2 linked regions of the Homo sapiens genome follow. The protein of the gene in region 1 interacts with the protein of each later gene in a pairwise test. Each region holds a gene or a part of one and is shown in the gene's direction. Other genes may lie near its edges. The genes, in order: CNPY4 and AIFM2.

The links.
Region 2: the proteins of CNPY4 (region 1) and AIFM2 interact in binary tests that used the Homo sapiens proteins (3 or more experiments, as listed by UniProt).

Annotation. Positions count from the first base shown.
Region 1 is NC_000007.14:100,122,610-100,126,297, forward strand, and holds the end of CNPY4 (protein canopy homolog 4 precursor), read left to right. Parts: intron 1-174; coding exon 175-297; intron 298-1,904; coding exon 1,905-2,022; intron 2,023-2,115; coding exon 2,116-2,279; 3' UTR 2,280-2,899; downstream 2,900-3,688. UniProt on the Homo sapiens protein: Plays a role in the regulation of the cell surface expression of TLR4.
Region 2 is NC_000010.11:70,115,826-70,119,638, reverse strand, and holds part of AIFM2 (ferroptosis suppressor protein 1), read left to right. Parts: intron 1-1,718; coding exon 1,719-1,827; intron 1,828-2,864; coding exon 2,865-3,017; intron 3,018-3,813. UniProt on the Homo sapiens protein: A NAD(P)H-dependent oxidoreductase that acts as a key inhibitor of ferroptosis.

The DNA of each region.
Region 1 (3,688 bases):
CTCAGATACAAAGATCTGTATCCCCTGAGGCCCTCCAGAGGTTATCTGCCCATCATCTCACCATCATGGAACTCACCCTTGAATCTCCAGTAGTTGACAAAACTGAAATGGCAGAAAGGGGAAGGGAGGGGTGGGGTGGTGAGCTGGGCTGATGCCAAATTCTTAATCTCTCAGGGTCAGAGTCAGACCATGGCAACACTGAAAGGCCTAGTGCAGAAGGGGGTGAAGGTGGATCTGGGGATCCCTCTGGAGCTTTGGGATGAGCCCAGCGTGGAGGTCACATACCTCAAGAAGCAGGTAGGATAAGACACTGCACCATCCAGGGAGGTGAGAAGGGAACCTGAGAGGGGAGCTAGGTTCTAGGGTTTGACTATAGGGGATGTCTACCCCTAAGCATGGGGAAGGGGCCAGAGTGAGGACTGTGCCATTGATTAAAGTGGGTCCAGGAGCGGTGGGGTGCGGTGGCTCACACCTGTAATCCCAGCAATTTGGGAGGCTGAGGCAGGTGGATCACCTGAGGTCATAAGTTCGAGACCAGCCTGGCCAACAAGGCAAAACCCCGTCTTTAATAAAAACACAAAAGTTAGCTGGGCGTGGTGGTGCACGCCTGTGATCCCAGCTACTTGGGAGGCTGAGGCAAGAGAATTGCTTGAATCCAGGAGGTGGAGGTTGCCATGAGCCAAGATCGCACCATTGCACTCCAGCCAGGGCGACAGAGCAAGACTCCATCTTAAAAAAAAAAACAAAAACAAAAACAAAAAAAAAGAAATCATAATGAGCCGGGTGGAGTGGCTCACAACTGTAATGCTAGCACTTAGTGAGTCTGAGGGAGAAGGACTGTTTGAGACCAGAGTTAGAGACCAGCTTGTGCAACATAAGAGACCCCCTTCTCTACAAATAATAATAATTTTAAAGAATTTTTTTTTTCAAGACGGAGTTTCACTCTTATTGCCCAGGCTGGAGTGCACCGGCACCATCTCGGCTCACCGCGACCTCCGCCTCCCGGGTTCAAGCCATTCTCCTGCTTCAGCCTCCCGAGTAGCTGGGATTACAGGCCCCTGCCACCACGCCCAGCTAATTTTTTGTAATTTTAGTAGAGACGGGGTTTCATCATGTTGGCCAGGCTGGTCGAACTCCTGACCTCAGGTGATCCACCCGCCTTGGCCTCCCAAAGTGCTGGGATTACAGGCATGAGCCATTGGGCCCTGCCTTAAGGAAAATTTTTAAAAAGTAATAATGGGCCAGGTGCGATGGCTCACGTATGTAATCCCAGCACTTTGGGAGGGCGAGACAGGCGGATCACGACATCAGGGGTTCAAGACCAGCCGGGCCATCATAGTGAAACCCTGTCTCTACTAAAAATACAAGAATTAGCCGGGCGTGGTGGTGTGGTGGCATGCATCTGTAGTCCCAGCTACTCAGGAAGCTGAGGCAGGAGAATCACTTGAACCCGGGAGGCGGAGGTTGCAGTGAGCTGAGATCCCACCACTGCAGTCCAGCCTGGGTGACAGAGCGAGACTCCATCTCAAAAAAAAAAAAAAGTAACAATGGTTGCTAATGATATCCACCATCACTTATTGAGCACCTACTGTGTCCCAGACTCTGGACCAGATACTTTGCATCTGTAGCCTCATTTTACCCTTAACAGCCTGATGTGGTAGGTGCAATTACCATACATATTTTACAGGCAAGGAGCTGAGACTCAAGAGTTTAATAATCTACTTGGCAGAATAGGTGCTGGTAAATGTTTGTTGAATGAATGAGGATTGCACATCTAGTAGGCCAAACTTAGCTTCCTGGCTACCTGCCTCTCCAAAATCAGTCAGGTTGAGCAGGGAGAGAAGACAGGCGGGATCCCAAATCCCTCCAGAGCAGATACTCTTCTGGCCCTTCTACTTGACCAGTGTGAGACCATGTTGGAGGAGTTTGAAGACATTGTGGGAGACTGGTACTTCCACCATCAGGAGCAGCCCCTACAAAATTTTCTCTGTGAAGGTCATGTGCTCCCAGCTGCTGAAACTGGTAAGCGTAAGGGTTGAACTCCTCTCCTGCCAAGCCATAGCCTCCCCTGCCTCCAGGACTAATATCTAAATTGTTTTCTGTCATCCGATCTAGCATGTCTACAGGAAACTTGGACTGGAAAGGAGATCACAGATGGGGAAGAGAAAACAGAAGGGGAGGAAGAGCAGGAGGAGGAGGAGGAAGAGGAGGAAGAGGAAGGGGGAGACAAGATGACCAAGACAGGAAGCCACCCCAAACTTGACCGAGAAGATCTTTGACCCTTGCCTTTGAGCCCCCAGGAGGGGAAGGGATCATGGAGAGCCCTCTAAAGCCTGCACTCTCCCTGCTCCACAGCTTTCAGGGTGTGTTTATGAGTGACTCCACCCAAGCTTGTAGCTGTTCTCTCCCATCTAACCTCAGGCAAGATCCTGGTGAAACAGCATGACATGGCTTCTGGGGTGGAGGGTGGGGGTGGAGGTCCTGCTCCTAGAGATGAACTCTATCCAGCCCCTTAATTGGCAGGTGTATGTGCTGACAGTACTGAAAGCTTTCCTCTTTAACTGATCCCACCCCCACCCAAAAGTCAGCAGTGGCACTGGAGCTGTGGGCTTTGGGGAAGTCACTTAGCTCCTTAAGGTCTGTTTTTAGACCCTTCCAAGGAAGAGGCCAGAACGGACATTCTCTGCGATCTATATACATTGCCTGTATCCAGGAGGCTACACACCAGCAAACCGTGAAGGAGAATGGGACACTGGGTCATGGCCTGGAGTTGCTGATAATTTAGGTGGGATAGATACTTGGTCTACTTAAGCTCAATGTAACCCAGAGCCCACCATATAGTTTTATAGGTGCTCAATTTTCTATATCGCTATTAAACTTTTTTCTTTTTTTCTAAAAACTAGCTGGGCCCAAAGTTTCAAACAACAGCCGGGCACACATAGCTAGCTGGTCGATGAGGCAGCACCCAGAATGGCCGCTGTCTTGTTAAGCTCAAGCTCCAGCCTGAGCAACATAGTGAAACCCCAATTCTACACACACACACACACACAAAGAAGACTGCAGGGCTGGTGGTGCAGCGCCTGTAGTCCCAGTTACTGCAGAGGTGGAGATGGGAGGATCACTTGAGTCCAAAAGGTCAAGACCAGCCTGGAGGCTGGGCGCAGTGACTCACACCTGTAATCCTAGCACTTTGGGAGGCCGAGGCAGGCGGATCACCTGAGTGTAGGAGTTCGAGAGCAGCCTGGCCAACATGGAGAAACCTCGTCTCTACCAAAAATACAAAAATTAGCCGGGCGGCTGGGCGCGGTGACTCACGCCTGTAATCCCAGCACTTTGGGAGGCCAAGGCGGGTGGATAACAAGATTAGGAGATCGAGACCATCCTGGCTAATACGGTGAAAGCCCGTCTCTACTAAAAATACAAAAAATTAGCCGGGTGTGGTGGCAGGCGCCTGCAGTCCCAGCTACTCGGGAGGCTGAGGCAGAAGAATGGCGGGAACCCGGGAGGCGGAGCTGGCAGTGAGCCAAGATCGTGCCACTGCACTCCAGCCTGGGTGATAGAGCGAGACTCCGTCTCAAAAAAAAAAGCCACGCATGGTGGTGGGCGCCTGTAATCCCAGTTACTCGGGAGGCTGAGACAGGAGAATCGCTTGAACCCAGGAGGCGGAGGTTGCAGTGAGCTGAGATCA
Region 2 (3,813 bases), on another chromosome or scaffold:
ATTATGATGAGTGATTGATCTAGTTACATTCATTCATTTTGATGTATGAGGGTTCTATAGGGAAAAACCAAACTGTTTTTCTCCCTACTCACTCCACACTTCTGGGATAAGATGTGTGGGTTTTTCCCCCACTGACCAATTCTCTGACACCAGCTGGGTGTCCTACGGTTCAATTCAATTCTGACACTACCTGGCGTTAGCGCAGACCCCACAGGTCAAGGGCTCAGTCCCACGATCCTGCCCCGACTTCAAACACCAGTTGCAAGTCCATAGGTCCCCAGCTTACCCACGCTTCTGTCCCACTTGGCTACAAGATAGAGATTCTCATGACTCTCTCCTTGGGTTAAATAATTTGCTAGAGCAGCTGATGGAAGCCAGGGAGACAGTTTACTTGCTGTTGCTGATTTATGACGAAGGATGTTTTAAAGGATAAAAATGAACATTCAGATGAAGGGGCACATAGGGCGTGGTCTAGAAGGGTCCTGAGCACAGGGGCTTCTGTCCCCATGGAGTTGGGGTGCATCACTGTCCTGGCATGTGGACATGTTCACCAACCTGGAAGCTCTCTGAACCCTGTACTTTAGGGATTTTTATGGAGGCTTCATCAGGTAGGCAAGGTTGATTATGACCTCAATCTCCAGCCCCCTCTCGTCACTGGAGCTGAAAGTTCCAGACTTCTAAGCTGGCTTGGTCTCTCTGGTGACCAGCGATCATCCAGGAGCCCATCAGGAGTAGCTTCATTAGAACAAAAGATGCTCCCATCACCCGGGAACATCCAAGGAGTTAGGAGCTCTATGTCAGACCCTCCCATCACTCAGGACATTACAAAGATCTCAGGAGCTCTGTATCAAGAACCGGCAATGAGGACCAAATATTAGAACAAATGATTCTTAGTACCCCAATTTACAAGGGTTTTAAGAGCTCTGCATCAGGAACTGGGGGCAGAGACCAATATATACTTTTCTTCTTATTTCACAGGGGTCAGACCAGTCTGAAGTAGTAAAAAAGTTCAAGTAACTCAGTAAAATATCCACATGTTTAGGATTTGTAGACAGTAAGGGTAGTAGCAGCCACCCTTTATTAAGGACTTAATATGTGCTGAGTTACATGCTTTGTACGTATTTTTTTGCTCATCATTACAAAATTCCTATGAGTGGGGCTATTGTGCCCATGTTAATGAGCCTTTGGGAGGTGTCCAAGTGAGTATCAGAGATGGGATTTCAACCCAGGCAATTTGATACCAAAGCCCAGGCTTTGAACATGATTGCAACATGAGGTGCCCGGGACGCTTCCCTGTGTTGTCCCAGACAGCAAGTAGACATGCCTGGAAGCACTAATTTTAAACAAGCTTTAATGTTGACATCAGTCTGATTGACTGTTGGAATGCCCATGGCTTGTATAATTATAAGTGCCCAAGGATGCTTGAAGATAATTTTCCAGGTGGCCCTAGGTGAGGTGTAGGTTGTGACATGTTGGCATATTGGTAGTCCTCTGGCCTGGGTGTGGCAGGAGGGTACTGAAAGAGTCCTAGTCTAGAACATGTGGGCTTAAGCCCAGCTCACCACTAATTGGTCCTGGCATTGGACAGATTACTTCTCTGGAGCTTCAGTTTCCTCATCTGTAACCTGGAGGTATGAGTGGAGGTGGACGTTCGTGCAATGATTGTGTTTGAAGACTTGGGGGCTCCTTCTCAGGCCCTGTGGTCGTTTTGTCCTCAGGTCACTCTCATTCACTCCCAAGTGGCCCTGGCTGACAAGGAGCTCCTGCCCTCCGTCCGGCAGGAAGTGAAGGAGATCCTCCTCCGGAAGGGCGTGCAGCTGCTGCTGAGTACGTGCACCCTCACCTCCCTCCCTGCCCTGCCCTGGCCTGGTGAGATGTGGCTTGGAGGCTTGGTGACTGCTTCCAGCAGGAGGGTGGCTATGGTCCACCCCAGGCTCTCTCTTTTCCACTGTGTCCTGGGGTGGAGCATGAAGCGCTCAGAAGAGGCCGTGAACATCAAAGCCCATCTGAGCCTTGTCCAGCTGGAAGTTGTGCCCGTCCCTGGGCAGGGAAGAGGGCCTGGTACTTACGGGATTTCCATGTCCTGGTTATTGCTTTGGATGCAGTGCAGATGGTGGGATGCCTGTCTGCTGAATGATTTTTCTTGAGTGCATCTGAAGGATTTGCCCCAAATAGGATGTCTCTGTGGTTGAGGGAATAGGTTTATTGGTTTATGTTTTGAGAGTGGTGAGGAGTGTGGCCTTCTTGTAGAGCAGGGGACGAGACCCACCCAGCAAATGCTGGAAAGTGAGGTTCTCTTCCAGCGCTGTGGCCCCTACACTTCACTGCATGGGGCCCCAGCCCCCTCACTGTTTGCGGGAGGGTGAGGCACCTGTCCTGTGAAGGGCCCGCATGGCTGCCTCAGCCTCCTTTTGGTAACTGGCTGTGGAGTGCTGCCGTCACTGTCACTTTAGGCAGTGAGTGTAGCGAGCTGGCTTCTCTTTCTCTGGCTTTCCCCTTTGTCGTGGTGCACTTGGAGCGCTCGTCCTGCCTAGTTAGGATGGCACGGCTGGCACTCATAAGAGGCGCGTCTGAGATCTTCCATTAAACAGCTTTTCTGAGAACTTCTTGGGAAACAGCCTCGCTTCCCTCCAGGGGCTTCTTGGAACTTTTCTCCAGAGGGACCCCTCGGGGCCAGATGTCCAGATCAGCTTTGTGGGGCATAGAGTGGACTGAGGGAGGGGCATGGTGGGAAGACAGGGTGCAGCCATTGCCCAGTTGGGCCCCAGAGGTCCAGGCCCTCCCCAGGGTTAGCCTTGGCCTGGGGTCCAGGCTTGATGGGGTCCCTGTCCCCACCAGCCTCCTGGTCATGAACCCCCTTCTAGGTGAGCGGGTGAGCAATCTGGAGGAGCTGCCTCTCAATGAGTATCGAGAGTACATCAAAGTGCAGACGGACAAAGGCACAGAGGTGGCCACCAACCTGGTGATTCTCTGCACCGGCATCAAGATCAACAGCTCCGCCTACCGCAAAGCGTTTGGTGAGCAGGTGCCCAGCCGGGCTTCCCCTGTGCCTCCTTGCTCTCCAGTACCCTCTGAATGCCCTGCAGTGCTTGCCCCCAGGAGTCCACACCTTGCTGCCTTCCCCCTTTCTTCCCAACAGCTCAGACTTTAAATTCAGTGAGGGTCCACCCTTGCTGAGCTCTCCTCAGCTGTGACCATGGCTCGGCCCCAGGTGGCCAAGGTGACCAGAATCTTCTGAAATTAGGGCCGCCCCCTAGTGGTAAGAGATGGGAACAGGCGTCAGAGAGATGACAAAGGTTGGTGGTGTTTCTTTCCCCCTCACCTGAGGACAGAGGAAATTCAGGGTCAGGCCTTCCTCTCTTGGCAGGCGTGCTGCCGCCCCCAAACCCAGATCAAAACATTTGGTCTCTTGAGCTTGGATTGACTGGGGAGTGGGGTTGGTAACATGGCCTCGTTTCTTAAAGCTCAGTATTTGCGTATTTAGCTGGCTGGAGGTGGCAGAGGTGGACTGATGTGTGTTTAAGCCTCCATTTGTGAGCAGGAGACTCAGTGGCCAGGCCTGGTGGTTGCTTTGTGTCCTCAATTCCCTGTCATTTACTCCCAAATGCCCTTCCCTGACAAGGAGCTCCTGCCTTGTGTCCAGCAGGAAGTAATGATCCAATCCCAGGAAAAGGAAGCCAGTCCAGGCTGTGTGTAGCAGTGGGATTGAGGGCTTATAATGGACAGAGATCCCAGAATTTAATACCAAATTGTCCTAATGTTGTATTTTCAAATACAAGTTTTTAAAAGTCCCTTTAAAAAAGCAGTTTGCCA